4 linked regions of the Homo sapiens genome follow. The protein of the gene in region 1 binds, or shares a complex with, the protein of each later gene. Each region holds a gene or a part of one and is shown on either strand. Other genes may lie near its edges. The genes, in order: RNASEH2B, RNASEH2A, PCNA and RNASEH2C. A codon is read from its position in the direction of its gene.

Region 1 (7,537 bases):
GCATTTGGAAAAAGAACCTTTCTAGTTAAAGAAATGTAGCCTAATTTGACAGGCAACAATGTTCAAGAATAAAAGCAATACTCAATGTCGTCAAAAATGCAAGATAAATACTCATTGGCAATAATGTTTGGAAGCACAACTTTCTCCATTTTTGAAAAGCACTTTAGCTATATATATTTCAATTATGAAAGAATTCATGTTCTCCAAGCTCTTAGTCTTAGTTCAAAATTGTGTCTAATGAAATGATTGGAGATACAGACTGTAAATAAGAATGTCTATCACTTCAATAAAAACAAAAAATAAAAAAATCAGAAGTAACCTATATGTCCAAATATAGGGAAATGATTAAATTACATTCCATATGGTGAAACAAACACCCATGACTGAATATCATAAAAACATGAATATTTTTTCAAAGAATGTTTAATGATATGTGAACATTTTCACAATTTAATGTTAAATAAAAAGCCCAGAACTGAGTATTATAATGCCAATGTTAAAGGCCACATATGTATTTATAATGCATGTATAAAACTAAGTAAGGACTGTTACCAAAATGCCATTTGCCAGGGTGAATGCTGAATGGTGAAATTATTAATTTTTATCATCATAATTTCTGCTTCTGGGCAGCAGGGTTGACAAAAAATTACCTGTAGAGCTTCCTCCCTCCTTTCCCACCCTATCACTCTATGAATACATAGCAAAATTTAGGCACACTCTTGATAAGTAGTATATTGTTTTTCTCTGACTAATAATAAGTCTTAGTTGCTTAACATTTTCATTGTCATATGCAATTCTTAATTATTAAGTCACAGAAATGCAAGTTAATAATTCTTCCTGGTCAAAACTGTAATCACAATCAAGCGTGCAACTGTTCCTCATGTATTCATGCACATCACGCACTGAGTATGAACGAAACACCACTACACCTGAACCCACATACCTTTTCAGTCTTCAAATCTTTAGTATTAAACTTAGTGTAATCTTCTTTTGCTTCTACAGGCTCATCTGATAACTTTATTTTCTGCAACATTAGAGCAGTGAAGTGGTGTCAAATGTCACTTTGACACAACATCAATCCATTAAAAAAAAACCCAACATGTATAATTTAGACCTCTACAGAGGCGAATGGGACAGCAGACCCAGCAAAGGGCTTACTTTTTACAGGCTCCTTTACATTTTGCCAATCATCTAGGGAATTGAGCCACACATCACTCCTAAGAAGCAGCCTTGGTGATGGTGGATATGATTGGGTAAGTACATGGCTGAGCCCCTTAGCTGGTCCAGCAAACACAGGCTTTGTAGGTGCCAGGTGTGGTGGGCATGAGGGGATTGCTAATTACCAGATGAATGCAAGGCACAGAAGTCAAAATGAGAATAGTCTCTTGAAGGGGGCCAGGTGTCCAGCCAGAATCCCTATTTCATTTACCTCCTGGGCCAGTTTAATGTCCACTTATGAATGAAGGGACAATATTTATCTTACTTTATCCATGCAAGAACAACCTTGCACAAGCAAGCAGCCAGTAAGAGAGGGAAGCACAGAGAGGCTAAATGAATAGCTTAAGGTCACCAAGTAGAGGACTTTGGCCAAGATTTCAATTCTGATACAGTGTTCTTTCCATTAGGCCCAATGCAACTAAGTCAGACCTTTACTTAATATTTTCTCCTTTCACATGAACATTTTACACCAGTGAATGTGAGAATCTTGTCAAGGCCTTAATGATCACAATATAGAAGAAATCATGCCACACTTATTATGTAAAAGGTACAAAAGCAGGGAAGACAAGTCTTGCTGTTGAACATGGAGAATTGACTGCATGGTGATCACAACCCAGATTTTTATAATTTTCAGGCTGTTTATGGAGACACCAGGTTGACCAGACCCAACATGGATCTAACCTAGGAAACAGACTTCTTCCCAGCTTCATTCTTCATGCCCCTGCTTTGCTAAACAAAGAACGGGTAGAGTTGGTGCTAAAAGATTCCACAGCCCATGGTGTTTTATCCCATAACCCAAGAGGATAAAACACCATGTCTTAAAATTGTTTGCTGTAAAAAAACAGAGGCTCATCCTGGGAATATACCACACACTATAGGAAAACCTCTTGGCCACACAGCAACCTCTAGCAAATGAATCATTAAAAGAAAAAGACTAATCCATCACAAATGAACCACCTATCAGCACCAAGTGAATGTATATTTGCAACTTTGTTAAGAATATATGTTTCAGCTTGGTGCAGTGACTCATGCCTGTAATCCCAGCACTTTGGGAGGCCGAGGTGGGCGGTCACTTGAGGCCAGGAGTTGGAGATCAGCCTGGCCAACATGGCAAAACCCCATCTCTAATAAAAATATAAAAATTAGCTGCGCATGGTGGCATGTGCCTGTAGTCCCAGCTACTCCGGAGACTGAGGCACAAGAATTGCTTGAACCTGAGAAGCAGAGACTGCAGTAAGCTGAGATTGTGCCACTGCACTCCAGCCTAGATGACACGGCAAGACTCTGTCTCAAAAAAAAAAATACATGTTTCTATTTAAATTAAGACAGCAAAGGGTGTTTAGGTGATGCACATTTTTTACTAGAAAGGTATCTTCAGCTAGGAGGGTGAAACTCACAGCTAATAATGCTGAAGGCCAAAATATTTTCAAAACACAAAAAGCTTGAAGTTATGAGGATGCTTGTGTTCCTTCTCTATGGCAAAATGTTCCTAACACAGATGTCATTATAAACACTTAGACATTATTCCCTTTTTTTCTTTAGAGACAGGGTTTCACTGTGTTGCCCAGGCTGGAGTGCGGTGGCTATTCATAGTTGCGATCATCATATACTACAGCCTTGAACTCCTGGGCTCAAGCGACCTTCTGCCTTAGCCTCCTGAGTAGCTAAGACTACAAGTGTGTGCCACTGAACTGATGAGGTTCACTTTTCATTGATAATTCAAATAAAAAGTGTTCATTACAAGAACTTAAGATGAAAGGTACTTTTGTATGGACATAAAATGTTTAATTGGAGAAATGACTTGTTCAGGTGTTTTAATAGCTCACAACAAAACAAGATACCAGTTACAAGTGTTTAAAAAAAGAAAATGATTGTGGTAGCCTCTACATATAACTAGTTTGTATGTTATTCCCAGTGCACTGTTGAATATATTGGAAAAAAAGATGATTGAAGCATTTACTAAAATTTTTGTTATTTAAAAGACCAAATCCCTATGGATTTGGGAGATTGTTTCAGCAGAGAAGTGGCTCAGAAAGACAGTAACAAAGGCTATGACTAAATGGATACAGTTCTGGAAAGAGAACAAACTGCAGAGTACCACAGGGATAATGTTAGGCCTTCTTACAAATGATTTGCAAGAAGGAACTCGGGAACATCTCCAAACCCACTGGTTGCATTCAACTCTGCTTGCTGACAGTGACAAATTGAAAAGACTGGAGCAAGTGAGGGTTGGAAGCTGAGTTTCAACAAAGGCAGACATATGATAGTAAAGGAAAATAATATAAAACATATTAAAGATGACAGGCTCCACGCTATCGATTACAACATAGATACAAAGATACCTAATGACTACTGGAATATATTTCCTGGAAACAGTCAACTATATTACTGTAAAAATCAATCAAATCCTGGATACAGACAGGAAAGCTAGCAGAAGATATGTTCTACGCTTGTTTAAACGATGGTACATCGTCTAGTATAGTTTGTCATGTGTACACTGGAACCCCAGAAAGACACAGAGTAGAAGACCTCGAAAAGCAACTCAAATAATATAGAAGACAAGGCTGGGGTTTAGGAAGAGCAAGATGCCAAAATCAAAATCAGGGCTTGGCAAATGATGGCCCAGGGGCCAAATCCAGCTGGCTGCCTGCTTTTATAAATGAAGTTTTACTGGAACACAGCCATGCTCATTCGTTTATGTATTATCTGTGGCTGTTTTCACAATACAACAGCAGAGTTGAGTAGCTGCAATAGAGTCCATCTGCTTCATGGAGCCTAAAATATTTACTGTCTGGCTTTAGAAGAAAAGGTTTGCTGATCTCTGATCTAAATCATAAATGATGAAGTCACAAACAACTTAAATTCTGAAAATTAAAATAAGAAAACAGAAATCAGGAGCAGAGAAGAATAAAGTTATGAAACATATTACTCCAAAAGGTATCCAAGGTTAAAGCTTTCAAGAATAGGTTTAGATCAATTCATGAATGATCTCTAAGTTACTAAGGAAGATAGATATTTGGGAGAAAAAAATCTGCTTCATTTTTGGATGAAGAAAAATAAGAAGCACGCTGAGAACCTACCCTCTTAGTTTCAGCAAGACAACTGTGCCTCTCTAGGTCCTCTAGAGCTACTGTCAGAGATTAACTACCGGAATGAAAGACGCATGGGTCTGGCCTAGAGCAGTCCTTAGATCTTACAGCAACAGACTTCTGCCCAGTGCTATTCTCCAAGAGAGTAAAACATGCATTTTTTTTTGACAACATGCTGAACATAGGCCCAAACAAACACTGCTGTACTTTCAATTTTCTGTCCTTTTCTAAGGACAATGTCTTTGGAGCCACCACCACCTTTATACAGGGAATGACATAAAAAATTATGAGCATTTTAGCTACCTTGAAGGCCAAGAAAACAATGCAAGGGAGAAGGAAAGTTTGTAACATCCACAATATGTCCATTTTACATTCTCAAGGCATCCGTTACTTTGCTGGCTGAAGAAATGACCTCACTGACAAGCTGGTGCACATGTTTATTTCCCTGTCTTGGAGCAGAGTTTAACTCATCTGAGATCTGGCCTGGGCTGAAGGAACGCTGCAATTTGCAGTCAGGTGTGGTTTATGATTGGCTTCTCCATTCTCTGGATCTAGGAGATAAACATACCAGCTGCAGAGGAGCTGTGGGTAGCAGCCTGAGAATGAATGAGGAAAAGATTTTCCACTAACAAAGATTACACGTAAATTCATCAATCATTTCAAATTCAGAAAAAAAGTGATCATCTTTGCTCAAAGGATTCTTTGTATTATGGAAATTGTTTTCTGTTCACCTTTGTGCCAGTGACAATTAGATTTGGCAAAATGAGTTTTAGTTATATATAGAGTATGCTTAGTGATTACTAAATTTAATTAAGTGATCTAACTAATGCAGGAAGATTTAATTTTAACTATATGTCTTTAATATTTTCACAGGGGTACCTTGCTAAAACCAACTCTTCTTGGGTTTTCATGGCACTTTATTTACCATTCAGGTGGAATCCACAAAAATAAAAAATAGTGATGGAGAGCCCAGTACAATCTTTATTCCACATGGCATCACTCCATGCAAAATGGATTTAGTACACCTTAAAATATATTAGAACCAACTAAACTCATGTGGTAAGAGTGTAATATTTTTCTAAGTCCCCCAAAGATATCTTAGTCACAGCTTCTTACCTTTGATGGAGGATTTGGCAATGAGGCTGAAGGTTCTGGAAGCCTAAGAAAGTTAAAAATAACAATCAAAGTCATCGTTTTTCATAGACAAACAAACAGAAAGACAGGGCCAACTTAAGACTTAGTAAGTCCTACTTTTCAACTTACAGCTTTACCTCCATATATCTTCCTGTTCAATCAACTCAGTGTAAAGAATGAAAGTTTTCTCAATAAATGAGTCTTTATTTTGATATGTAAGTCCTTGTTTTGGTGTTGTCTGAACTAAAAAATAAAATTAGAACCCATCTGTTGGAACAGAGTTCCTTTTCTTTAGCCTCTATAAATTTGTGTTTCGGTGTTGGAGTATTTTTTCTTCATAGTGAAGATGCTAACATATATTTAAAGGTGAAAATCATTTTAACTGTTCACAAAAAGCCACATAAATTTCAACTTTTCTTCCATTAGAAAGCAGTTTAATTGGCATACCTTTCTTCTGAACTCTTCAACCAAAACTTAAAAATGTTAGTGGAAAGAAAGGAATCTATACAAACAATGGAGTACAAAGACATGAGGTCTCTAACAAGACAAGCAGCATAGAAATCTGGGGATATATTAAGCAGAAGGATATGATTATCAATTTGAAGCAGGCTTTCAGCACACTTTAACTATTATAGAAACCAGTTTCCAATCATTGTTTTTTAAAGTAGGACCTCTGGAATTTGCTAAAACCAACAACTGTATCTATTAAAAAGTCATTTTATCTTCATGACTCAGAGGATAAAAAGGATTTATAAGGATCAGGAAAAGCTATTAAATCATCACACACATAAAATCTTAACAACAAAATTAAGTAACGATTTTGCAAAAATCTAGAAAATAAACACTTCTAACACTTCTTTTTCAACTTAAAGTCTAAATGTATAAGCTCTTTATAAAGAAAGGAACATACATTAAACCATTCTTAAAACCCTTCTTCTGCCCCTCAAAGACACAGATTGTGTTTCATATTACTTTGACTTCCAAGTCTTTGGCATAAAGTCCCTTTAGTGAACATCTAGTGATAATAGTGAAAATGATATCAATATTTTGTAAATTAAAAAAAAGTCTATATTCCATCTACTCTTTCCATCCCTCCTTTCTTCCTCTTAAAACGATCACAAAGAACCAAATTAGTTAAGTATAATTGAGGATAAAATTTTAACATAGTTAATCCTCTAAAATCAGACCAAGCCATAATTCCAATCTTGACATTCACTAGTTCCTGCAATCCGTATCCATCAAATCAGTTCATTCCAATCATCCATTAAAAATCATCCCCAAAGCACAAAGTATATGACATAGCTGAAGAATAATCTTGTATCATAAACAGTGATATGATAAGCCATAAGGAAACCCCACTGCTGGGGAAACCAAGAAGCAAATGGTACTTCATTATGACTGAAGATAATCAATACTCACTTTAAGTATTTAGATAAGTCATCACTTAATTCTTTAGGGATGTAGTCAGATATCAGACCATGGGCATAACGAATATAATCCTCTGAAAGAAACAGAAGGAGGAGTGAAAGCAAAAAAAAAAAATAGTAATTATGGTGGTTTTATAGTCAAATTGACCTGAATTCAAATTCTGACCCTATCTGGATAAAGGGAACTCACTTAAGCTCTAGCCTCAGTTTTCTCATTTGTAAAATGGGGATAGTAATATCTATCGGTCAGACTAGTGGGAAGATATGAGGGATGAGATATGACATGTGATGATACCAAAGATATAAGATAAAACAAGTATAATACAGTAGATGCTCCCTAAATGACATTAAAAACAAAAACTCAGGGTTGCTTTCTTATTTGAAACCACTGAATACAAATAAAGTTTAAAAATCATCTACAACAATATGAAATAGTCATGTCTTTTTTAAAAGGGTAATCTTTTCTAAGCCTGCTTCAATAAAGAATAAATCTAATTATTCAACAGTAATGAGTGTACTCATTTAAGAGAAATAAAATACCATGTCTCTACTACTAGGTATTTGCTTTATAAGAACCCTGAAATATATATATATAGTTCTATACATACATATTGTTCTATATACATAGTTCTACATACACACACACACACACACACACACACACACACA
Region 2 (7,416 bases), on another chromosome or scaffold:
TTTATAAAAACATAAAATAAATACAATAAAATAAAGAAAAAACTCACCTCCTGAAGAGGCTTTCTCTATCACGCTGCTTTTACTCTAACTTATTTAGCACCTACTGCATGCCACATACTGTTCTAGGAACTGAGGTGGCAGAAAACACTAGAAAAAAATTGGTAGAGTGCGTTAGCACAAGCCTGTAATCCCAACACTTTAGGAAGCCGAAGTGGGAGGATCGCTTGAGGGCAGGTGGTTGAGACCAACCTGGGCAACATATGGAGACCCTGTTTCTACAAAAAATAAAAAGTTAGCTAGGTGTAGTGGTGAATAAAGGCTTGAAGGAGGTGAGGAAGTGAACTGTGCAGAGATCTGGGGAAGAGGGCTCTAGGTGTGAGAACAGCCAGTACAAAGGCCCTGAGCTGGGACCAGGTTCATGATGCTGGGCCCATGCATGGGGGCCTTTGGCTGCAGCACCGAAGAGAGGGTCCAAGAGCTGCTGGGGGAAAGTGGTATCTCCACAGCACTACTGTTTTCAGAAACAACCTTTATTTTTTGTTTACCAGCTGACCATCTTTCATGTTTTATTTTTTTATTTTTTATTTTTAGTAGAGATGGGGTTTCACCATGTTGGTCAGGCTGGTCTCGAACTCCTGACCTGATGATCCGCCCGCCTCGGCCTCCCAAAGTGCTGGGATTACAGGCGTGAGCTACTGCGCCCAACCTCCAGCTGACCATCTTTCTGCCCAGGCTAGGCCCTGAACGCCTACGGGTAGGGCCCTTGTCTGTCTACACCAGTTACTGTATCGCCAGCTCTGCATTTGGGCCTGGTCCTCAGGTCCCTCCTCAGCAGGGTCTACCTTGCTATAATTCCTTTCTTTCTTCTTCTTTTTGTGGAGATGGAGTCTCGCTATGTTGCCCAGGCTGGTCTGGAACTCCTAGCCTCAACCAATTTGCTCACCTCAGCTTCCCAAAGTGCTGGGATTACAGGCGTGAGCCACCATACCCAGCATACAATTCCTACGTCAAGGTTATTTTGCCTTGTTATTCTCTCAGAACGGTCCATTCTTTCATTGAGAGCATTCGAGGCAATGCTGATTTATGTTTTTCTCTGGTAATTTAATGTAATTCTGCCCCACTCGACTGTGAATTTTCCTGATTTAATTTCCACTGTGATCGGAAAACTAAATGTCGAGATGTGCATTTCAAAAAGACTACCTTCTGTTGCTGCTTGGGGAACAGATTGGAGGGGATAGGAGGGTGAGGGACGAGAGACGACACTCAGCAGGTGTCCAGGGAGTGGGGGGTGTCCTGGGCTAGGACAGAGGTGACAGGTAGACAATGTAGGATTTGTTCTGGAGACTGAGCCTTTAGGATGAGGGAGAGATTAGATGGAGACGGGACTAGGGGCTACACTGTGGTCGTCAGTGTGGCACACATTTAGGGCAGAAACAGGAGCACGAAATCAACAGTAGCAATGAATATGCCCGAGGCACTCCAGACGTATCTGATGCTGAATCTGCACACTGCACATTTTTGCCCACATTTATTTTTTATTTTATTTTTATTTTTATTTTTCGCTCTGTCCCCCAGGCTGGAGTGCAATGGCGCGATCTCACCTCACTGCAACCTCCGCCTCCCGGGTTCGAGCAATTCTTCTGCCTCGGCCTCACCAATAGGTGGGATTACAGGCACCCGCCACCATGCTGGGCTAATTTTTTGTATTTTCAGTAGAGATGAGGTTTCACCATGTTGGCCAGGATGGTCTTCAACTCCTGACCTCAGGTGATCTGCCTGCCTCAGCCTCCTGAAACGCTGGGATTACAGCCGTGAGCCACTGCGCCTGGTCTCCCATTTTTAGTTTATTTTTTATTTTTTATTTTTTTGAGACAGGGTCTTGCTCTGTTGCCCGGGTTGGAGTGCAATGGCACAATCTTGGCTCACTGCAACTTCTGCCTCCTGGGTTCAAGCGATTCTCCTGTCTCAGCCTCCTGAGTAGCTAGGATTACAGGCGCCTGCCACCACGTCCAGCTAATTTTTGTATTTTTAGTAGAGACGGGGTTTCACCATGTTGGTCAGGCTGGTCTCGAACTCTTGACCTCCGGTGATCTACCCGCCGCGGCTTCCCAAAGTGCTGCGATTATAGGCGTGAGCCACTGCGCCCTGCCTCCATTTTTGAGTTGGGGGGCTTCCTTTGTCACCCAGGATGGAGTGCTGTGGCATGATCATGGCTCACTGCAGTCTCGAACTCCTGTTTTGTCCCCATTTTATCCTGAGATGACCAAATGGGGACAACTTACAGTTAACTCACCTGGGTGACGTTCACGCCCTGGTCCAATGCATACTGTATAAGCCCAGTGGCTGTATCATGTGACAGGGAGTTCAGGTTGTATTTGACCCTGTGGTGGGGAACAGAGCCCAGTTAATCTCATTCTAGGAACAAAGCTTGGTCAGCCCATGCTGGCTGCCCCTCCCGGGGACCCCTCACCGCCCAAGCATGCTGGTAGAGATGAGGTTTGGAGACAGCACATCCAGCGCCCAGCCGACAAAGTCCGTGTCCTCCATTTTCGCAAACAGCCTTTCCCGCTCGCTCTCCAATAGGGTCTTTGAGTCTGGGAGGAGGTTTGGAAGAGAAGGGGAACAGCTGGTTCTCCCAGTTCCTGCCCTCCCCTTTCAGTTCTCACCTGCCCCTGCACATACCCAGGAATCCCTTCCCCAGACGCACACCTCGGGCTCACCTGCCACTTTCAGCGCCTCCAGATCTGCCAGGCGAGGCAGGGGACAATAACAGATGGCGTAGACCATGGGGCCTGGGGAGAAGGGGTGTCAGTTTTCTGGCAGCCGGGGTCCAATCACTGAGCCCGTGAAAGTTGCCATTCATCCCTGTTCTATCATCACTGCTTCTTTAGGTGCCATCACCACGACCACATCCCCTCCCTTGGTGCAGTGCAATCCCGACTCCCGTTTCCCGCATCCTCCGTACCACGCCCCTCCCCTCCCTGGCCCTAGGGGCGCACCCAGCACGGGGCCCCTGCCCGCCTCATCGACGCCCAGGACGCAAGGCTCCTTGCGGCACACCGCGGGCACAGGCGAACTCAGGCGACAGCGGCCTGTATTGTCTCTCTCCAGCTCGCTGAGATCCATGCCGCCTCAGCCGCCACCACCAGCTGCAAGAACTAATACTGCAGGAGCGGGTCTCGGCGCGCGTTTTCCGCGGGCCTCGAAGCGGCGCCTGCTTCCGGCCAATCCGCGGGCAGAACACGCCCCTGGCGCTCCCGCCGCCGTGGACGCTTACGCAGCCGACGCCGACGTCGCTGCCGTGCGCCCTCCTGGGAATTGTAGTCCCGAAGGGCTATGGCCGAACACTCAGCTTGGGGAATTCGGTGGACGGGGTCACTTTGCAAGCTCTGCTTCACGGTCTCTGGGGCCCCGCCTGCGTGGCCCGGTGGGAAGAGGGGGAAATAAGAGGGAAACTGAGACGTAGCTTCGAAGACCCAGCCTAACGGGGAACTAGAGAGTCAAATATCACCCCACTCCCAGGACACGGGTCACCGCATCACTGGGTCCCCAACTGCCACTTGGATTCAGGCCCTGTACTTGCGGTCCCTGCTTCTGTACACATTCTAAGTCCCCTGGACCAGGTAGCCCCGCTTCCACTAAACCCAGGCTTTTGGATTTGGAGTCCCCAAACTCCCTCTCTTGGTTGCTCCCTTCGGCCCACCTCCACTCCGTGCAAGATCTGTGCTTCCTAACCTCTGTCTCATTCAGGCCAAGCCTTCCCCACCCCCGTTGGAGATCACAGACCTCGGTGGACTCCTGCTCAGGGTCTCTGCTCCCTATAGAAGCTCATTCCTCCCAACTTAGAATGAATGTCCCCACCCCCACCCCTCGACCCACTTTTTTTTTTTCTTTTTTTTTTTTTTGAGACAGAGTCTCGCTCTTGTCGCCCAGGCTGGAGTGCAATGGCGCCATCTCCGCTCACTGCAAGCTCCGCGTCCCGGGTTCACGCCATTCTCCTGCCTCAGTCTCCCGAATAGCTGGGACTACAGGCGCCCGCCACCACACCCGGCTAATTTTTTGTACTTTTTAGTAGAGATGGGGTTTCACCGTGTTAGCCAGGTTGGTCTCGATTTCCTGACCTTGTGATCCGCCCGCCTCGGCCTCCCAAAGTGTTGGGATTGCAGGCGTGAGCCACCGCACCCGGCCTTCTTTTTTTTTTAGACAGGGTCTCTCTCTGTTGTCCAGGCTGGAGTGCAGTGGCGCGATCTTGGCTCACTGCAACCTCCACCTCCTGGGCTGACGCGATCCTCCCACCTCAGTCTCCCAAGCAGCTGGACTACAGGTGCACACCACACCACCATGCCCGACTATTTTTGGTATTTTTTGTAGAGACGGGGTCTCATTATGTTGCCCAGGCTGGCTTCAAACTCCTGGGCTCAAGCGATCCGGTCGCCTCAGCCTCCCAAAGTGTTGGGATTACAAGCCTGAGCCAGCCACAGTGCCTGGCATCCACCACTTCTATTCCCTGGGCTCACTGGGGCTCATGTCCTCTGCCTGTGGGTTCCCGCCCCTTACCAGGCTCATGCCCCTTCCTCAGGGTCCTAGTTCATTGTCTCTTTATCTCCTTTTACTCCTCTTCGCCTCCCCCTCCACTTTTTTTTTTTTTTTTTTTTTTTTTTTTTTTTTGAGACAGGATGTTACTCTGTTGCCCAGGCTGGATAGCAGTGTAGCGATCTCGGCTTATTGTAACCTTTGCCTCCCAGGCTCAAGCGATCCTTCCTCCCCATCGTACCGAGTAGCTGGGACCACAGGCATGTGCCGCCACGCTCATCTAACTTAAATGTTTTTGTTTGTTTGTTTGTTTGGTTGGTTTTTTTTGAGACAGAGTCTCGCTCTGTCGCCCAGGCTGGAGTGCAGTGGCGCGATCTCGGCTCACTGCAGGCTCCGCCTCCCGGGTTCATGCCATTCTCCTGCCTCAGCCTCCCGAGTAGCTGGGACTACAGGCGCCCGCCACCGCGCCCAGCTAATTTTTTATATTTTTAGTAGAGACGGGGTTTCACCGTTTTAGCCAGGATGGTCTCGATCTCCTGACCTTGTGATCCGCCTGCCTTGGCCTCCCAAAGTGCTGGGATTGCGGGCGTGAGCCACCGCGCCCGGCCTAATTTTAAAAATTTTTATGGAGAGGTGATCTCAACGATATTGCCCAGACTAATCTTGAACTCCAGGACTCAAGAGATCCGCCTGCCTCGGCCTCCCAAAATGCTGGAATTACAGGCGTGAGCCCCGGCGCCCGGCGCCCCCTCCACTTTTCTCCTTTTCTCCCTAGATATCAGCGGGGCTCACGGCTCCTGACTCAGCTTCCCCCTAACCAAATCAGCCTCAAGTCACTCAAGACTTGGAGCCCCAGTTCTCCCTTCCTCAAACTCGCTTCATACCCGCCCCGCACCGCACATCCTCCCTCCGCGCCCACCCTGGGCCCCGCAACTTGCCCCGGCCCTGCTCTCTCACCCGGGCTCAGAGCCTCCAGTCGCAGTCGAAGGGCTTGCAGGATGGACAATCCCGTTGCCGGCAGGGCCGTAACTGGATCAGCTTCTCCGGGTCCATGAAAACCGGGCCCGGCGCTGTGCCCACTACCTCGCGGCTGCGCTCCTGCTTGCCCAGGTCGCAGAGACACCGCCACTTTCCCCACGGGCCAAGGATTGAGTCCTCGACTTCTAGAGAAGGAGGGCAGAGGTGAAGACCTACGTGGAGGGGGCCTACTCCCAATCCCCTCCCCCAGAGAGGGAGAAAGATAAAGATACTAACGAATAAGAGAAGCACATATTCGCTAGACTCTGCTTCTATGCCAGACACCCTGCCACAGATTATCTCATTTAAGCTTTTTTTTTTTTTTTTTTTTTTTTTTTGAGACAGGGTCTCGCTCTGTCGCCCAGGCTGGAGTGCAGTGGCGCAGTCACAGCTCACTGCAGCCTCAACCTCCTGGGCTCAAGCAATCCTCCTACCTCGGCCTACCAAGTAGCTGGGACTACAGGCACATGCCACTGTGCCTGGCTAATTTTTTGTATTTTTTGCAGAGACGGTGTTTCACCATGTTGCCCAGGCTGGTCTGGAACTCCTGGGCTCAAGTGATACTCCCATCTCAGCCTCCCAAAGTGCTGGGATTACAGGTGTGAGCCAGCCACCATGCCTGGCCTCATTTAATATTTCCACGAGTCTCAGGTGGGGAAACCAAGACCCAGAGACAGCAAGCCAACCTTCCAAGCTCATATACGGGGTAAGTGGGCCAGAGGAACTACAACCTGACACTTCCAGGCTGTGCCAGCCTGCCCAGTTGTGAGTGTCCTACAACATCCTTGGTGCCCGCCATTTGAAGCTGACTTCTGTCTTCAGGGGTGTGACCATGGCCCTACCTAGAAGGCACAATGCCACCTGACAGCAGGGTTGTCAAGTGATAAATGGCATAATTGACATAATGAAGGTAAGTAAATCTCCCGGTGCTGTGCTAGCATATACAAACCAATTTATTATGATCAGTTTGTTTATTTATTTAATTTATTTATTTTGAGACAAGATCTTGCTCTGTTACCCAGGTTGGAATGCAAGGGCATAATCATGGCTCACTGCAGCTTCAAACTCCTTGGCACAAATGGTCCTCCTGTATCAGCCTCTTGAGTAGCTGGGACTACAGGCGCATGCCACCATGGCAGGCTAATTTATTTTTTATTTTTATTTATTTATTTATTTTTGTAGAGTAGGGGGTCTCTCCATGTTGCCCAGGCTGGTCTTGAATTCCTGGGCTCAAGCAGTCCTCCCGCCTCGGCCTCCCAAAGTGCTGGGCCATCAAGTCAGGCTAATTTTAAAATATTTTTTGTAGAGATGGAGTCTTGCTGTGTGGGCCAGGCTGGTCTGGTCTCCGAGACCAAGGGATCCTCCCACCTCAGCCTCCCAAAGTGCTAGGATTATAGGCGTGAGCTACCGCGCCGGCCACTGTGATCACTTTAAAGGGCTCTTTACTGAATCTGCCCCTTTCCCCTATGAGACAGATCTTATCCCAACTCCGATCTTATCCCAACTCACCGCTCACCAAGGTCTGACACCTCCTACCCTCCCACACCCATGTCTCTGCCACACCTCACCGACCTCTTTCCATTTCTCCTTCAGGACTTTTCACCTTGGCATTTGCTATTCCCTCTTCCTTGGACATTCTTTCCCCAAATCTTTCCATATGGGACTTTCGCTTGTCGTTCTCGCTGCACTGGTCACGGGTCTTCTGCAATCGGACCCTCTCTGATTTCCCAAGCTTGCCCGCCCCCTTCTTTCTCTGTCTCTGCCCTTCCTGGCACCTATCCCCGAGTGACAGCTTCAGTGTCCTGCCCACACCCTCTCTTCCCCTGGGAGCTGCTTTAAAGCAGTATCTATTTCAATATATCCAAG
Region 3 (7,498 bases), on another chromosome or scaffold:
TTTGCTTATTAATGTGGCTAACAAACTTCACGTTTATGAAGACTAGGACTGGACAGTGGAGGCCAGATACCTCTGGCTTTTTGTTTAGATGAATAAATTTTCTATTTCTCTTAATCCATTCAAGTTGAGTTCTCTGTCACTGAAACCTAAACTATACTAACCAATATAATCCTTTGAGGCATACTGAAGTCTTAAAACTTGTATGGTTATTCATTATGTTTTATGGGTTTTTTTCTTATGTTTGGAAGCCCATAGGAAGATCTCATAAATATTTACCAAAATATTTTTCCATTTCTTATTGGGTCAAGATTTGAATTTGAATTCTTTATCTAGAATTTAGTGAATAATTATTAGGAAAAGTCTTTTTTTTTTTTTTTGAGATGGAGGTTTGCTCTGTCACCCAGGCTGGAGTACAGTGGCGCAATCTTGGTTCACTGCAACCTCTGCCTCCCGGGTTCAAGCAATTCTCCTGCGTCAGCCTCCCTAGTATCTGGAATTACAGGTGTGCACCACCACGCCCAGCTAATTTTTGTATTTTTAGTAGAGACGGGGTTTCACCATGTTGGCCTGGCTGGTCTCGAACTCCTGACCTCAGATGATCCACCTACCTCAGCCTCCCAAAGTTCTGGGATTACAGGCATGAGCCACTGCGCCCATCCAGAAAAGTCTACAGCTTTTATTCTTTTCTAATAGTTTAACCAATTATCTGATCAAAATTTACTTCATTCTTTCTCCCACTGATCCAATAGTACCTTTACTAGATGTTAGAGTAGCCACTTAAAATGTAAATTGGATCACATCAAAGATCTGCTGTTGACCACATTCCCTTGCACTTTTAGAGAGCCTACAAAGTCCTGCAAGAGCTCACCCCAGCCTCTCTGCAACCTCACCTTGCACCACTCTTGCTTCAGACACATCAGTCTGAGTTCTACATCAAACTTGTCTGAATATATTCCAAGTATGCTGACCTTTATAATCATGCTATTCTCTCAGCCTAGAATGCTTTTTTCCAACTCTCCAAGCAGCTGTCTTCTCTGATAAGATGCTACCTCCTCAGAGAGGCCTTCTCTGACCACAGTCATAGGCATGTTTATGTCCTCATTTCAGTTTAACATAAAATTTACGTAACTGTACACCTCTTTATCATTTGACACTTTTAGGAGGACATCACTTCTGTAATAGAGCAGAAATAAACAGATTGATGTACATGGTGGATCCCCCATGGATAGAGTTTGTCATTTAAAATGTCTTCAAATCTATTACATGTAATTTGGCATTAAACCAAAATGTTATTATGTAAGCAGACAGAACTGAAACAGAGTAGTGGAGCATATGCATTTGTTTTTAGTGAAGCAAATGTTCCTCACTGGAGGAAGGAACACATTCCACATTTTGCAAAGGAACTGAGATTTTAACGGACCCAAGAAAGGAAAAGAACCACAAACAGATGATGCTGTATTATGTTTTGATATTGAGATGTATGCAAATGGGTAGTCCATCACACATAAAGCAAGAAAGTGCCAACATCAAAACTTACAAATGAGTAGCAGAGGCTTGCAAGAAATTCCAGAGACAATAGAATAGCACTATTGAAAAATACTGCATCATCAATACCCTTGACAACACAGAGTAGGATATTATACAGAAAAACAGCAGAATCAGCAACTAACTGAGTGGAGAAACAGTAGGAATGCCTTAACCAATGTAGCTTAAATTTTTTCATGTTTGCACAAGAGTAATATATAATAAGAATGTTTTTAAAGTCTAAAAGTTCTTTTAAAACAAAATAGACCCGGGCGCGGTGGCTCATGCCTGTAATCCCAGCACTTTGGGAGGCCAAGGCAGGCAGATCACATGAGGTCAGGAGTTCAAGACCAACCTGGCCAACATGGCAAAACCCCGTCTCTACTAAAAATACAAAAATTAGCCAGGTGTGATGGCGCATGCCTGTAATCCTAGCTATTCAGGAGGCTGAGGCATGAGAATTGCTTGAACCCAGGAGGCGGAGATTGCGGTTAGCCAAGATCACACCACTGCACTCCAGCCTGGGTGATAGAGTGAGACTCTGTCTCAGAAAAAAAAAAAAGAAAAAGAAAAAGAAAAAAAAAAAGAAATTCTAAGTGATAAAGCATTGTGTAACAGTTTGAGGCTGGGCACAGTGGCTCATGCCTGTAATCTCACACTTTGGGAGACCGATTGGGAAGATTGCTTGAGCCCAGGAGTTGGAGACCAGCCAGAGCGACATAGTGGGACCTTCTCTCTACAAAAACATTTAAAAATTAGCCAGGTACAGTGGTGCACCCCTGTAGTCCCAGCTATTTGGGAGGTGGCAAGAGGATCTCTCGAGCCTAGAAGTTGGAGGTGGCAGTGAGTAGTCATCTTGCCACTGCACTCCAGCCTGGGTGTCAAAGGGAGACTCCCCTCTCTAGAAAATAATAAAAAAAAAAGTTTGACAGTTTTCTTGCTTGTGCTACATAAAATAATGGTACATATTACAATTGAAGGCATCTTATAATAGAAATGCCCTTTCCTGTTCCCTTTTAAGGCTGACCCAGTGCTTTAAGAGGCTGATACAGAAGGGTAAAGTTAAGTCTCCACAAAATCCAGGGAAGAGACTGTGAAACTCATCTTAGAACCTTGTATGGAGTCACAGCTGAACTAGGAAAAAAAAAAAAAAAAAAAAAAGGAAAGAAAGGCATTCCAGAGATAAAGAATAGACTAAGGAGAGGAGATATTTGAAGCCATAATGATTGAGAATATGTCAGACTTGAAATGAATCTTCAGTTCCCTCAACAAGACAAATAAAACTAACTCCATACCTAGATACATGGTAGAAAAACTAAAGAATTCTGCTGACCAAGGTATTAAAAGTAACTAAAGAGAAGTGGTGTGAAGAAAGCAAGAGAGAAACAACAAATCCTGTCCATCCTGTAACAATTGAAAATTTCTGGCTGGGCGTGGTGGCTCACGCCTGTAATCCCAGCACTTTGAGAGGCCGAGGCAGGTGGATCACCTCAGGTCAGGTGTTCAAGACCAGCCTGGCCAACATGGTGAAACCCCGTCTCTACTAAAAAAAAATAATAATAATAATACAAAAATTAGCCGGGGGTGGTGGTAGGCACCTGTAATCCCAGATACTCGGGAGGCTGAGGCAGGAGACTCACTTGAACCTGGGAGGCGGAGGTTGCAATGAGCTGAGATCGCGCCACTGTACTCCAGCCTGGATGACAGAGCAGGACTCCATCTCAAAAAGAAAGGAAAAGAAAAGAAAAAATATTAAATGTGTACGCTCTTTGACTCAGCTGTATTACTTCAAGGAGTTGATATCACCAAAATTGCCTAAGTGCTCAAAGGTGTTTGTAGTTAAACAACAGGAGATTGATAAATTATGTTATATACATGTGATGCTATGTTTTAAAGAGGTACTGATATGATAAAAGATGTACGTGGCATAAAATTAAATGTACTTTATTAAGTACTTTTCCAAGTGTTTACGGAATGAGTGCATTTTTGAAAAAAAAAAAGTGTATTCGAACTTTTAAAAAAGCTTTAAAAGCTTTATACAATGAACGATTGAGTGATTATAAGAGCTGGCGGGGGAATGTTAAGAGGATGATAGGGAGCTAAGTTTAACAGAACAATTCACCTCTTTATCTTGTGACACCTACGAGCGCATCAATTCTGTAATTGAAAAATAAAGTGCATATTTGCAGCAGCTGTACTCTCTTCAGGCTGCAAGGAGGCTTTTCCTCCCGGTAGGCTTGATTTGCATTTCACTTTCACTTTCGTGGCTGGAAACTTTCTACCCACGTAGTGGGAGGCTGAGGAGCCACCATAAAGCTGGGGCTTGACGAGCCGGGACCGGGACCCGATCTCCACATATGCCCGGACTTGTTCTGCGGCCGGGTTCAGGAGTCAAAGAGGCGGGGAGACCTGCGCGACGCTGCCCCGCCCTGCGCCCGCTTCCTCCAATGTATGCTCTAGGGGGCGGGCCTCGCGGGGAGCATGGACACGATTGGCCCTAAAGTCTTCCCCGCAAGGCCGTGGGCTGGACAGCGTGGTGACGTCGCAACGCGGCGCAGGGTGAGAGCGCGCGCTTGCGGACGCGGCGGCATTAAACGGTTGCAGGCGTAGCAGAGTGGTCGTTGTCTTTCTAGGTCTCAGCCGGTCGTCGCGACGTTCGCCCGCTCGCTCTGAGGCTCCTGAAGCCGAAACCAGCTAGACTTTCCTCCTTCCCGCCTGCCTGTAGCGGCGTTGTTGCCACTCCGCCACCATGTTCGAGGCGCGCCTGGTCCAGGGCTCCATCCTCAAGAAGGTGTTGGAGGCACTCAAGGACCTCATCAACGAGGCCTGCTGGGATATTAGCTCCAGCGGTGTAAACCTGCAGAGCATGGACTCGTCCCACGTCTCTTTGGTGCAGCTCACCCTGCGGTCTGAGGGCTTCGACACCTACCGCTGCGACCGCAACCTGGCCATGGGCGTGAACCTCACCAGGTGAGCCTCGCGGCCCCGGGAAGCCGGCCCCGGCCCGCCTGCACCTCCGGTGCTTGGCGGGAGCGCTTTCGAGCCTAGCCCTCATTGGCTGGCGTGGGCCATCCGCGCCTTCTCATTGGCCTGCCACGCAGTGGGGTGGGGCCCAGCTGAGCGCGCGGTTCGGAAAAGCCCGCGCTGGCTGCTGCGCGAACCTGCTTTTTCGCGCCAAAGTCACAAAGCGGGTGGTGGCGGGAAAATCAAGGGTTTTTCCGCAGTGCCAGGAACACTGTTCCAGGGCTCTTTGCTCACTAAATCCTGTTGGCCTTGAATGGACGCTTTAGCTGTGGCTTTCTTGTTTCTGAGACGGTCTCGGTGTGTTGCCCGGGCTGGTCTCCAACTTCTGGGCTCAAGCGATCCTCCCGGCTCAGTCGCGGTTGACTTTAAATGCTTTATAATGCCCTTGCGAGAAATGTGGCAGCCTGTCATCCTACTTAGTGGCAGGAGATTGTTTCTATCCAGAAGGGACACTGCTGGTGGTATTTTAGTATAAATACTGCCAGATGCGTCCCAAAACGTCTGCATTAATAATGGCATCCTCCAGCAGTCCGCTTACCCTCCACCAGTTCTGAGACGGCCTGATGGGTGAGAGTGGTAACCCCTTCTAACCGCGTTCGAAATACAGCCCTTCAGCAGACGGCGTTGATTTTAAAGCATGTGTCTCCTGTCTTCTAGTATGTCCAAAATACTAAAATGCGCCGGCAATGAAGATATCATTACACTAAGGGCCGAAGATAACGCGGATACCTTGGCGCTAGTATTTGAAGCACCAAGTAAGTCGTACCTTTTTACCGAGTCACGAAGCTACAGAAAATCAAAACTCTGTGTCAGTATTTCTCAAAAGCATCTGCTTTCTTTTGGTAGACCAGGAGAAAGTTTCAGACTATGAAATGAAGTTGATGGATTTAGATGTTGAACAACTTGGAATTCCAGTGAGTATCAGTTTCTCATTGTAGAGAGTGCTGTACACAGGCACGATAGTTATGTCATAGAATGTTTGTTTATTTTTACAGACAGGGTCTTGGCTCTGTTGCCCAGGCTGGAGTGCAGTAGTGCCATATAGCTCTCTCTAACCTGGGATTCCTGGGCTCAAGCAGTCCTCTTGCCTTAGTCTCCTAAGTGGCTAGGAAGGACTACGGGCCTGTCCCACCACACCTGGCTAATTTTTTCATTTTTGTGTGTGGGCGTGGGGGCAGTCTTGCCCAGGCTGGTCTGGAACTCCTGGCCTCAAGTGATCCTCCTCCGTCAAGATATGTTAATATAATTTAAGCCTACTTCATAACAACTTTTTCTAGAAATATATCTACTGGTGCATGTTTCAAAGAGAGATTTTAGTATTTGGATAGTTGTTCACCACAAGTCTAAAACTCACAGGTTAAATTTATTGTTTACTGCCAGTTGTCTATTTGCATTAACTTCCATGAACCTCTTTTAAAATTTGTTTCCTTCTAGAATGCTTGCTTTTTATTAAGTGGATTTTAAAGCTGACTTGGAAGAAATTTATCCAGGTTAGGTTTATAAACACCAAAGGAGAGAAGAAATGTTTGAATGTTGAAAATGCCTAATATATTCTCTTGCTTTCTTTTAGAAAGTAGTTAGGCCTGCTTGCGCCATCATGATTTCTGTGCCATACTCTAATGTTCTCTTACTTTATCCCTGGAGGATGAGGAGGAGGAGGCTCTTGTTCCCTGGATGGTGCATTTAATAGCCATTTATTTTTTTGAGTGGAGTTTGTTAAGAAATTACGCAAGTCATATTTTAAAGTAATCAGAAAATATTGATTCTGAGTTGTTTAGGTGTTGCCTTTTAAGAAAGTGAGGGTGCCAAATCATTAAATTTCTAACAATTAACTTTTGGAAAATTTTTGTTCTTAATAGGAACAGGAGTACAGCTGTGTAGTAAAGATGCCTTCTGGTGAATTTGCACGTATATGCCGAGATCTCAGCCATATTGGAGATGCTGTTGTAATTTCCTGTGCAAAAGACGGAGTGAAATTTTCTGCAAGTGGAGAACTTGGAAATGGAAACATTAAATTGTCACAGACAAGTAATGTCGATAAAGAGGAGGAAGCTGTAAGTAGTTTTTAAGTAAAAAGAAAATAGTTTGAAGAGAATTATAATACTGCTTATTAGGTTAATTGCTAAAATTAAAAGTAGACAGAATTGGATCCCAAGTAATTTCTGAAAATTGAGATACTGTTGAAATCTGCGAATGATTTATAAGTGTCATCCAATTTAGAATTATATTTGCAAGAAGGGAATACAAATTCAGCACGTGTACATACCACAGAACAGTGGTTTATGGATCAAGTCCACACCGGCTCTTAAGGGTAGGATTGGGAAGTTAGGCGTATAACCTTTAGCTTTCTGGAGATACTTACTCTCTTACCAAATAATTGAGCATAGGACAGCAGCTCAATAGAAGGATATGGTTAGGAGTAAAAGTCTACCTGTTTGGAGCACTTATGTAATCCTAATATTAGCTTACATGTTGTGGGTCCAATTGGTAGCCCATTTTAAAGGTGGAGAAGCAGGCTGAGCAACCTTAAGTGACAATTTAGCCAAAGTCACAGGCTGTAGGAATCAAAGGTTAAACAGGAAGGAGACTTCTCACTAAGGCTAGAAAGCAGACTCCATGCAACTTTGAGAGTACCTAGAGAGCCCTTGTTTAACCAAAATAGAAAGAACATGGCAAAACCCCATCTCTACTAAAAATATAAAAATTAGCCGGGTGTGGTGGCGCACACCTGTAATCCCAGCTACTTGGAATGCTGAGATGGGAGAATGACTTGAACCGAGGAGGCGGAGGTTGCAGTGAGCCCAGATCATGCCACTCCCCTCCAGCCTGGGTGACAGAGCAAGATTCCATCTTAAACAAACAAAAAAAACTCGCTAACCTGGGCATAAATTAAAACTTTGTAAATCAAGGACAAAGGTCCTAACCTCATAACCTTGTTAGGATTAAATAC
Region 4 (7,774 bases), on another chromosome or scaffold:
TTATGGTCCATTCGAGAAATTTTATTGGTTAAATGATGCCCAGATGGGGTCACATCCTCAGAACTTCTCAGCCTGGTAGCACAAGTGGATGCTTGAAGAAACTCAGTCTTGGAACTCAGACAGCAATGGAGACGGGATGTGAGTGGGACCAGCAAGGGGCTAAGGTCCATTATGAGGGTGAGGAAGGGCTTCTAGAAGTAACAAACATCCCAGGTCCCTGACTGGGGAGAATGAAGACACTGACCAAGAGATGTGAAGCCACTCAGGGCTGTGCAGGGTCTGAGGATCTCACTGGGGACGGCCTCCCAGCGGCCAGCTATCAGCACGAGTTGGAGGGAAAGAGCCATGGTGGGGGTCAGTCACGTGGCTCCCAGGAATGGTCTCCCCGACTTAGGAAGCACCTTGGTGCACCTTTTCTCCTTGCATCCTCACAACCACCCAGTCAGGCCACTCAAGTCTTACAGCAGGTGACACTCCCAAGGTCCCAGCTAGGAGGACTTTGAGAATTCAAGCATTCTCAGGTCTGGATTAGAGACAGGAATCTGTCTCCACTTCCTTACATGGCTAGACACAGAGCCCGGGATGGCAAAGGAAAATTGGAGGCCCCTTCTTCCCATGAGCCATTTTCTCTGCATCCCCTGCCCATAAGCCTTCACTGGCCTCTGATCACCCTCATGGTTGACTGCAGCTGCTCCTCTCAGTGCCCTCATGCCCTCCACTGTGCTCAGCGCACGGAAAGAGTGAATACTCAGTTCTTCCTGAGGGAACTGAGGCACAGAGAAGTGGAGGGCATAGAACTGCCAAGTGGCAGGGCCATGATAGGAACTAGGCAGCCTGCCTTGGCAACCTGTGTTTTTAAATGTTGCTTATGTTCATCTGTGACCTCTTACTCACCCTCTCCTGCTCCATTGCTTTAGGCTATGAACTCTCCAAAGTGGAAGGGAAAACAGGGACCCCTGAGAAGCCCCTCTCAGACCTTGGCCTCCTATCCTATCGAAGCTACTGGTCCCAGACCATCCTGGAGATCCTGATGGGGCTGAAGTCGGAGAGCGGGGAGAGGCCACAGATCACCATCAAGTGAGCCTGGCGCTGTCTACCTGGGGGTACATGGCATGGCTTGTCTGTTCCTGGGCTTTCTCTCTCAGGGCTCCTGGGGACAGATAAAGGTCCTCAGGGAACCTGACCTGTGCTCTCCCACAGTGAGATTAGTGAAATCACCAGCATCAAGAAGGAGGATGTCATCTCCACTCTGCAGTACCTCAATCTCATCAACTACTACAAGGTAGGGAGGCAGGCAGGGGAGACAGGTGTGTGGGATGCAGAGTGCAGTCCTCTGTGGGCTGACCACCTGCTGAACCCATCTCCTCTGCCCAGGGCCAGTACATCCTCACACTGTCAGAGGACATCGTGGATGGCCATGAGCGGGCCATGCTCAAGCGGCTCCTGCGGATCGACTCCAAGTGTCTGCACTTCACTCCCAAGGACTGGAGCAAGAGGGGGAAGTGGTGACCAGACACTGCCCACTGCAGTGCCAAGACGGCAGCAGGACTGGGGCTGATAGCCCACCCCGCCCCCACTGCAGCTCCCACAAAGCACTCTAAGGGAGATGGGGCTGAGGACAGCTCAAAAAGGAGAGGACAGGCCTGGCAGGGGCCCACTGGTGCCCAGCACCAAGGCGAGCTCCGGGCTCAGACCAACTCCAAGGTCAGCTGGCCACAGGCCCAGGCCTCCTCTGAAGCAGGGACCAGAGGGAGCCAGGCAGCTGTGTACAGTGAGAAGGGATCCGGATGGGGGAGCTCTGTACAGAGGGCTGGTGATTGTAAAAATTTCTTTTGTAAAGTAGAAGTTGGGGGTGGGGTGGGTGCTGGCTGCAAAAATTTCTGGCTTCTCTTACCCCTATTGCCCCCGGCAATAAATTGTTTCTATATGCCAGAGCCATGCAAAGTTCTTGGTGGGGAGGGGGAAAGGGCCCATGCTGGCTTAGGGGCTCTAAGGCGCCCAGACTCACAGGTGCTGTGAAGAGCTCCTTTATTGGGGTGATGGAATCGGTTCCAAAGAGCTGGTTTACTGCTGTGAAGGGATCGCAGCTTTGAATTTCAAGCTCTGGTTCTCAGTCCTCGGGCACCTGTGCGTGAATCTGCAACAGGAGTCGCCTCTACTGTTGGACTTGTAAGACAGGGCGGCAAGCTGGCCCCCATACCCGAGGAAGGACCCAGCTGTTCAGAATAACCGCTTCTAGACATGCTAGGAAGAGTGGTCAGGGAGCTACGCTTCCCACACACTACCCAGTAGAATCCTCCAGGCTCCGTCTGCGCAATTGTGCTCCCCAGCCCATCCACCCGGGGGCAAGACGGAACTCCTCGTCTACTCACCGCTGCCGCAAGGCTGGGCCAAGTTAAGGCCCCACGCACTTTGGCATCCGGGCCAGGGATGGTCTCCAGACCCCACAGGGTGAAGCGGCTGAAGTTGGCAGTGGCTCCAATGAAGCGGTCCTGGGGAAGGGGCCTGGCTCAGCATCGGGACTACAGCTCCCGCCCGCACCCCCTTTCAACCCTATCCCTTTGCTCACGAAGTCCCGCTCCAGCGGCTCCTCCTCTTGGTCGTCAGTCCCGGAATCCCGCAAGGGGTCTGGCTTCCCCATCGACACCTTCTTCTCTTCTGTCACCATCACGTATCCCACGAGGCCAGGCGGCACCGCCACCTCCTCTCCCCGTAGACAGCGGCCCCGAAACGACACTTCGAGTCCTGGAGCGGGAGGCGCAAAGGGCCTCAGGCAGGACCCACGCTGGGTCGAGCCCGGAGCTGCCCTCCCGCCACCTCCGGACGGACCACGATCCCCAGGAGCCCAGGCGATGAGAAGCGCGCAGGCCGGCGCGGGGGCTGCCGGGAGCCGTAGTCCGGCCGCAGGGCTCACCCTCGGGGCCCTGGCGGATGGCGGGCGTGAAGAAGCGCCCCACCGGGGCGGGCCCGTCCACCGCAACCTCGCAGGGCAGCAGATGCAGTGTGGCGGGTACGGCGTCGCGCAATGTGGCGGAGCGCAAGTGGACGCGGTGCCTCTCGATGGCCGCTTCGTCGCCGCTCTCCATCCTCCCTCCTACGCGACGCCAGGGCTCGCGAGCTGACACTGAAGCTGGCGCGGAAAGCGCGCAGGACCTCTCAGGAAGCCTCCGCGGGGCCTCACGGGAAGCCGCCGCGGAGCTTCACGGGAAGTGTAGTCCCCTTACCCCCTAACGCTTTCCCTGGGTTCAAGTCCTAGGGTTTTCCAGTTGTGTTTTGTTTTTTTCCTTCCTTCCTTCCCCCCTCCCCTCTTTCCTCCCTCCCCTCTCCCCCTCTCCTTCCCCCTCCCCCCTCCTTCCCCCTCCCCCCTCCCCCTCCTCCCTGCCTCCCTTCCTTCCCCCCTTCCCTTCCCTTCCTTCCCGTCCTTCCCTCTTTCTTTCTTTTTCTTATTTATTATTATTTTTTTTTGACAGAGTCTCGTTTTGTCGCCCAGGCTGGAGTGCCAGGCACGGTCTCAGCTCACTGCAACCTCCGCCTCCCGGGTTCAAGCGATTCTCCTGCCTCAGCCTCCGGAGTAGCTGGGATTACAGGCGCACACCACCATGCCCACCTAATTTTTGTATTTTTAGTAGAGACTGGGTTTCGCCATGTTGGCCAGGCTGGTCTCGAACTCCTGACCTCAGGCGATCCTCCAGCCTCGGCCTTCTGAAGTACTTGGATTACAGGCGTGAGACACCGCCCCCAGCCGGGTTTTTTTCTTTTATTGTTTTTAATGGCACATGTCGTTGTAAAAATCTAAAACGATTCTGAAAAGTACTCTTTTTATATTGATTAGTAGGTAGGTTATTCATTTTTAGTTTATTAGGGACATCAACCCTTTTCTTAAATGCATTGAAAATGTTTTATCTGTGGTCTGTCTTGCAAACCTGTGTAAAGGTGATTTTTGCTGGACAAGGACTTATTTTTGTGGTTGTTTGGTCTTTTAGACAAGGTCTCACTCGCCTAGGCTGGAGTGCAGTGGTTTGATTGGCTCACTGCAGCCTCGACCTCCCAGGCTTAATCCATCCCCCATCCTCAGCTTCCTGTGTAGCTGGAACCACAGGCCTGCGCCACCACGCAGCTAATTTTTGTATTTTTGGTAGAGGTGGAGTTTTGCCATGTTGCCCAGGCTGGTCTTGAACTCCTGGACTCAAGTGATCTGCCCACCTTGGCCTCCCAAATCACGCTGGAATTACAGGCGTGAGCCACTGCACCCAGGACAAAGACTAATTTTTTGTAGTCAAATTTATCAACACTTTTCAGTCTTTTAGATTTCACAATTTTCTCTCTTTGGTTTCTCAGCTCTTCTCTAATGTTTATTTGTTCAGACACCCAACTTAGATATATTTTTTCAAGTTCTCACATAAAACAAACACAAAACTGGAAATTTAGATTTAAATTGCGTTTAATTTATACATCCCTGCACATCTGGGAGCTGGCCTTGGTATTCTGTTGAATATAAACAATTTCAGAGAACATCAGCATCGGACAAGGTCACTCTGTGACCGTGAGGGAGCAAGACAGAAACAGAACCACTCCATCGTCACATCTGAATGCTGGCAAAGGTGAACACTGTCCAAACCACAAAAGGCATGAAACATCCCTCTTTCTCCCATAAGAGAGTGACTGTTGTTTCCTTACCAATTACAGCATTAGCCTCCAACTAATCTTCTCTCCTTCTGGGCAAGACTCATTAAGATAGTCCGTCATAGACATACCCCCACCTCTGACAGCATCCAAGCCAGAGAGAAGCCTGGCTTCCCTAAACCCTGACTGAAATCACTGAACATGGGCACAAATCCTCCTATAAGTCCTTTCTAGCACCCTCTTATTGAAATTCCCCAGAGTGCAGGAGTAATATACCCAATTTGTTCAACTGCAGATGTATTCCTGGTGCTCTTTCACTAGAGTGGCAGATTAATTTAGAAAAAGGCTTGCTTTAGTTTTCTATCAGGAAAGACATAATTCAATTTATTCACATCTCCTTGGATATCTGTACAGTTGTGAGGTTTTGTTCATATATAATAGCTATTAATACATATTGTAAAGTTTATTTCTTCTTAGCTTATATTAATAATTGTTTCTATTAAGAACTGAGGGGCTGGGCATGATGATTCACACCTGTAATTCCAGTGCTTTAGGAGGCCAAGATGGGGGAGGATTGCTTGAAGCCAGGAGTTTGAGACCGGCCTGGGAAACATAGCAAGACTCCGTTCCTACAAAGAAAAAAATTTTTTTAAACATGAGTGGGGCACAGTGGCATGTGCCTGTAGTCCCAGCTACTCAAGAAGCTAAGGTGGGAAGATCACTTAAGCCAAGGAGTTTGAGGCTGCCGTTCGAGTCACGATTGCACCACTGCACACCAGCCTGGGTTACGGAGGGAGACCCTTTCTCTAAAAACCAAAATTGGGGCTTTTATTTTTTTCATTTTATTTTCTAACTGATTTTCTTTTTAATCTATAGCAGGGGTTGGCAAACTTTTTCTGTAAGGGGTCAAATAGTAAATATTTTAGGTTTTGTGGACTTTATGGCTTCTGTCGCAGCTACTCAACTTCACCGTTATAGCATGAAAGCAGTCATAGACAATACATAAATGAATGAGCGTTGTTGTGTTCCAGTAAATCTTTGCAGAAACAGACAAGGGGTTGGATTTGAACCACAGGCCATAGTTTTCAGACCCCTTGTCTATAGCAAACCTGTTGATTTTTATATGTCCATTTTTAAACTAGATATCGACTGAATTATTTTGTTCCTAATGATTTTTATTTTATTTTAAGATCCCCAGAATTAGTCACCTCTCTTTCAAATAATAATTTTTACCTCACCATTACATCTTCTTTTTGTTTTTTGTTTTTTGTTTTTTTTTTTTCATTACACCTTGTAATTTGTTTTCTTTTCTAATTGCCTTGGCCAGTACTTGCAGAACAGTCTCTCAAATGTTACTGGTATCAGAGGACAACATTGTCTTTTTCCTGAAACTTTCACGGGAGTGCTTCTGCTGTTTCACCAATAATCATGAAACTGCCTTTTGACTTGTTATATATGTCTCATTAAAGCTGTACTACTAAGAGCTTTTAAAAATTGGGAGTAGATGTTGGATCTTATTTTTTATTTTTATGTTTTTGGTTTTGCAAGTTTCCTGTAGTCTGGATATTAGTAATTGCATTCCTATAGTGTCAAGGTAATCTATACCTGTATTTTCTGTAATTACATCTAGAAGCTTAATTCGATTCTTTGGGGAGGGGAGAGGGCAAGACTACTTCATGGGTGGTTTTGTGTTTTTCCCTCTTTTTGTGAGGTTAGCAGCCATAGATGATCATTGCCTAGATCCTTTAATTCATTAGAGGTTAAAACGCGTGTGTACGCGCACACACACACACACACACACATATTTTTGGGACAGAGTCTCACCTGGTAGCCCAGGCTGGAGCGCGGTGGCGCGATCTTGGCTCACTCAGCTCAACCTCTGTCTCCCGGGTTCAAGCAATTCTCCTGCCTTGGCCTCCTGAGTAGCTGGGATTACAGGCGCATGCCACCATGCCAGGCTAATTTTTGTATTTTTAGTAGAGATGGGGTTTTACCATGTTGGCCAGGCTGGTCTCCAAATCCTTACCTCAAGTGATCTGCTCCCCTCCCTTGGGCTCCCAAAGTGCTGGGATCACAGGCGTGAGGCATGGTGCCCAGCCTAAAACTGATATTCTAAGTCCTCTCATTTCTTCTTCATTTACTAGCTGAAATAGGTCTATAAAGAAAAACTCTCCCCATCAGCCATTTGATTGCCTGTTGGTACAGTGAGGATAAGAAAGACAAAATAATTAGGCCGGGCACAGTGGCTCACACCTGTAATCCCAGCACTTTGGGAAGCTGAGGTGGGTGGATCACTTGAGGTCAGGAGTTCGGGACCAGCCTGGCCAACACGGTGAAACCTTATCTCTACTAAAAAATACAAAAATTAGCCGGGCGTGGTGGCGCATGCCTGTAATCCCAGCTACTCAGGAGGCTGAGGCAGGAGAACTGCTTGAACCCGGGAGGTGGAGGTTGCAGTGAACTGAGATCGAGCCACTGCACTCCAGCCTGGGTGACAGAGCGAGACTGCATCTCAAAAAAATCCTTTTATTTTCCAGTTCTTAAAATAATGATTTGTTGCCCTAGCATATTCCAATGGTGACCTTTTAAAAATGTTAAATAAATATTAAATAAATAAATATAAATAAAAATAATAAATAATGGATTAACACTTTTATGTTTCACATAATTGTGGTTATTATTCTTACTGAGGTGCAAATTTCCCCATCTTCTGCCAGTGGAAGCCTCTTCAAGTTATCTCCTGAATCTTTCGATATGACCCTAGTGATCTTTTATACATATCTTTGTTTTCCAGTACCACAAGATGTTCCTGGCTCATCTTGTACATTTCCTGCCCCAGACTTGGAATTATACATCTCTCCAAAGATCGCTGGTTCCCTTCAGTGGGAAATGATATTTAGTAATCCAATCTGATACTAGATGTATTCATTGCTACTGAGTTAGCCTTTGTTTCTAGATATTTCCAGTGGACAAAGCTAGGAAATACGCATTTTTTTCCTCTCCTTTTTTTTTTTTTTTTTTTTGAGACAGAGTCCGCTCTGTCAGCCAGGCTGGAGTGCAGTGGCACAATCTCGGCTCACTGCAACCTCCGTCTCCTGGGCTCAAGCAATTCTCCTGATTCTCCTGCCTCAGCCTCCCGAGTAGCTGGGAT

What was found.
Region 2: the proteins of RNASEH2B (region 1) and RNASEH2A are in contact, whole or in part, in a crystal structure (PDB 3PUF), measured with the Homo sapiens proteins. Residues at the interface, in NP_078846.2 of Homo sapiens: His16, Phe18, Lys39, Asn42, Gly48, Ala49, Ile50, Val63, Lys64, Val65, Phe66, Lys67, His70, Phe74, Val79, His86, Phe87, Val183, Tyr211 (codon at 6,928), Gly214 (codon at 6,919), Leu215 (codon at 6,916), Asp218 (codon at 6,907), Tyr219 (codon at 6,904); in NP_006388.2 of Homo sapiens: Val227, Phe228, Ile253, Trp254, Glu255, Ser284, His285, Tyr287, Phe288, Arg291, Gly292, Leu293, Glu294, Ser295, Ala296, Thr297, Ser298, Leu299.
Region 3: the proteins of RNASEH2B (region 1) and PCNA are in contact, whole or in part, in a crystal structure (PDB 3P87), measured with the Homo sapiens proteins. Residues at the interface, in NP_078846.2 of Homo sapiens: Asp290, Ser292, Gly293, Met294, Lys295, Ser296, Ile297, Asp298, Phe300, Phe301; in NP_002583.1 of Homo sapiens: Met40, His44, Val45, Ser46, Leu47, Glu124, Leu126, Gly127, Ile128, Pro129, Phe207, Ala208, Asp232, Val233, Pro234, Tyr250, Leu251, Ala252, Pro253, Lys254, Ile255, Glu256.
Region 4: the proteins of RNASEH2B (region 1) and RNASEH2C are in contact, whole or in part, in a crystal structure (PDB 3PUF), measured with the Homo sapiens proteins. Residues at the interface, in NP_078846.2 of Homo sapiens: Arg14, Gln15, His16, Val17, Phe18, Leu19, Val20, Ser21, Glu22, Leu24, Leu35, Met36, Phe37, Val38, Lys39, Leu52, Glu62, Lys64, Phe66, Glu68, His70, His71, Ser72, Trp73, Phe74, Ile75, Asn76, Gln77, Ser78, Val79; in NP_115569.2 of Homo sapiens: Ile9 (codon at 3,062), His12 (codon at 3,053), Arg13 (codon at 3,050), Val14 (codon at 3,047), His15 (codon at 3,044), Leu16 (codon at 3,041), Ser18 (codon at 3,035), Ala27 (codon at 3,008), Thr28 (codon at 3,005), Leu29 (codon at 3,002), His30 (codon at 2,999), Leu31 (codon at 2,996), Leu32 (codon at 2,993), Pro33 (codon at 2,990), Cys34 (codon at 2,987), Glu35 (codon at 2,984), Val36 (codon at 2,981), Ala37 (codon at 2,978), Val38 (codon at 2,975), Asp39 (codon at 2,972), Gly40 (codon at 2,969), Pro41 (codon at 2,966), Ala42 (codon at 2,963), Pro43 (codon at 2,960), Val44 (codon at 2,957), Gly45 (codon at 2,954), Phe48 (codon at 2,945), Phe63 (codon at 2,731), Val75 (codon at 2,695), Pro77 (codon at 2,689).

Annotation. Positions count from the first base shown.
Region 1 is NC_000013.11:50,947,392-50,954,928, reverse strand, and holds part of RNASEH2B (ribonuclease H2 subunit B), read right to left. Parts: intron 6,943-7,537; coding exon 6,861-6,942; intron 5,467-6,860; coding exon 5,424-5,466; intron 4,904-5,423; coding exon of another isoform or gene 4,820-4,903; exon of another isoform or gene 1,025-4,819; coding exon 944-1,024; intron 1-943. UniProt on the Homo sapiens protein: Non catalytic subunit of RNase H2, an endonuclease that specifically degrades the RNA of RNA:DNA hybrids. Participates in DNA replication, possibly by mediating the removal of lagging-strand Okazaki fragment RNA primers during DNA replication.
Region 2 is NC_000019.10:12,802,384-12,809,799, reverse strand, and holds the start of RNASEH2A (ribonuclease H2 subunit A), read right to left. Parts: upstream 3,217-7,416; 5' UTR 3,127-3,216; coding exon 3,000-3,126; intron 2,793-2,999; coding exon 2,721-2,792; intron 2,595-2,720; coding exon 2,471-2,594; intron 2,382-2,470; coding exon 2,294-2,381; intron 1-2,293. Other genes in the region: THSD8 (thrombospondin type-1 domain-containing protein 8 precursor), read right to left, coding at 5,497-5,696. UniProt on the Homo sapiens protein: Catalytic subunit of RNase HII, an endonuclease that specifically degrades the RNA of RNA:DNA hybrids. Participates in DNA replication, possibly by mediating the removal of lagging-strand Okazaki fragment RNA primers during DNA replication.
Region 3 is NC_000020.11:5,116,574-5,124,071, reverse strand, and holds the start of PCNA (proliferating cell nuclear antigen), read left to right. Parts: upstream 1-4,113; 5' UTR 4,114-4,273; coding exon 4,274-4,494; intron 4,495-5,205; coding exon 5,206-5,303; intron 5,304-5,394; coding exon 5,395-5,462; intron 5,463-6,407; coding exon 6,408-6,602; intron 6,603-7,498. UniProt on the Homo sapiens protein: Auxiliary protein of DNA polymerase delta and epsilon, is involved in the control of eukaryotic DNA replication by increasing the polymerase's processibility during elongation of the leading strand.
Region 4 is NC_000011.10:65,717,673-65,725,446, forward strand, and holds RNASEH2C (ribonuclease H2 subunit C), read right to left. Parts: upstream 3,127-7,774; 5' UTR 3,087-3,126; coding exon 2,915-3,086; intron 2,746-2,914; coding exon 2,570-2,745; intron 2,493-2,569; coding exon 2,373-2,492; intron 2,138-2,372; coding exon 2,111-2,137; 3' UTR 1,510-2,110; coding exon of another isoform or gene 1,375-1,509; 3' UTR 1,283-1,374; coding exon of another isoform or gene 1,201-1,282; 3' UTR 1,078-1,200; coding exon of another isoform or gene 918-1,077; 3' UTR 1-917. Other genes in the region: histone acetyltransferase KAT5, read left to right, coding at 918-1,077, 1,201-1,282, 1,375-1,509.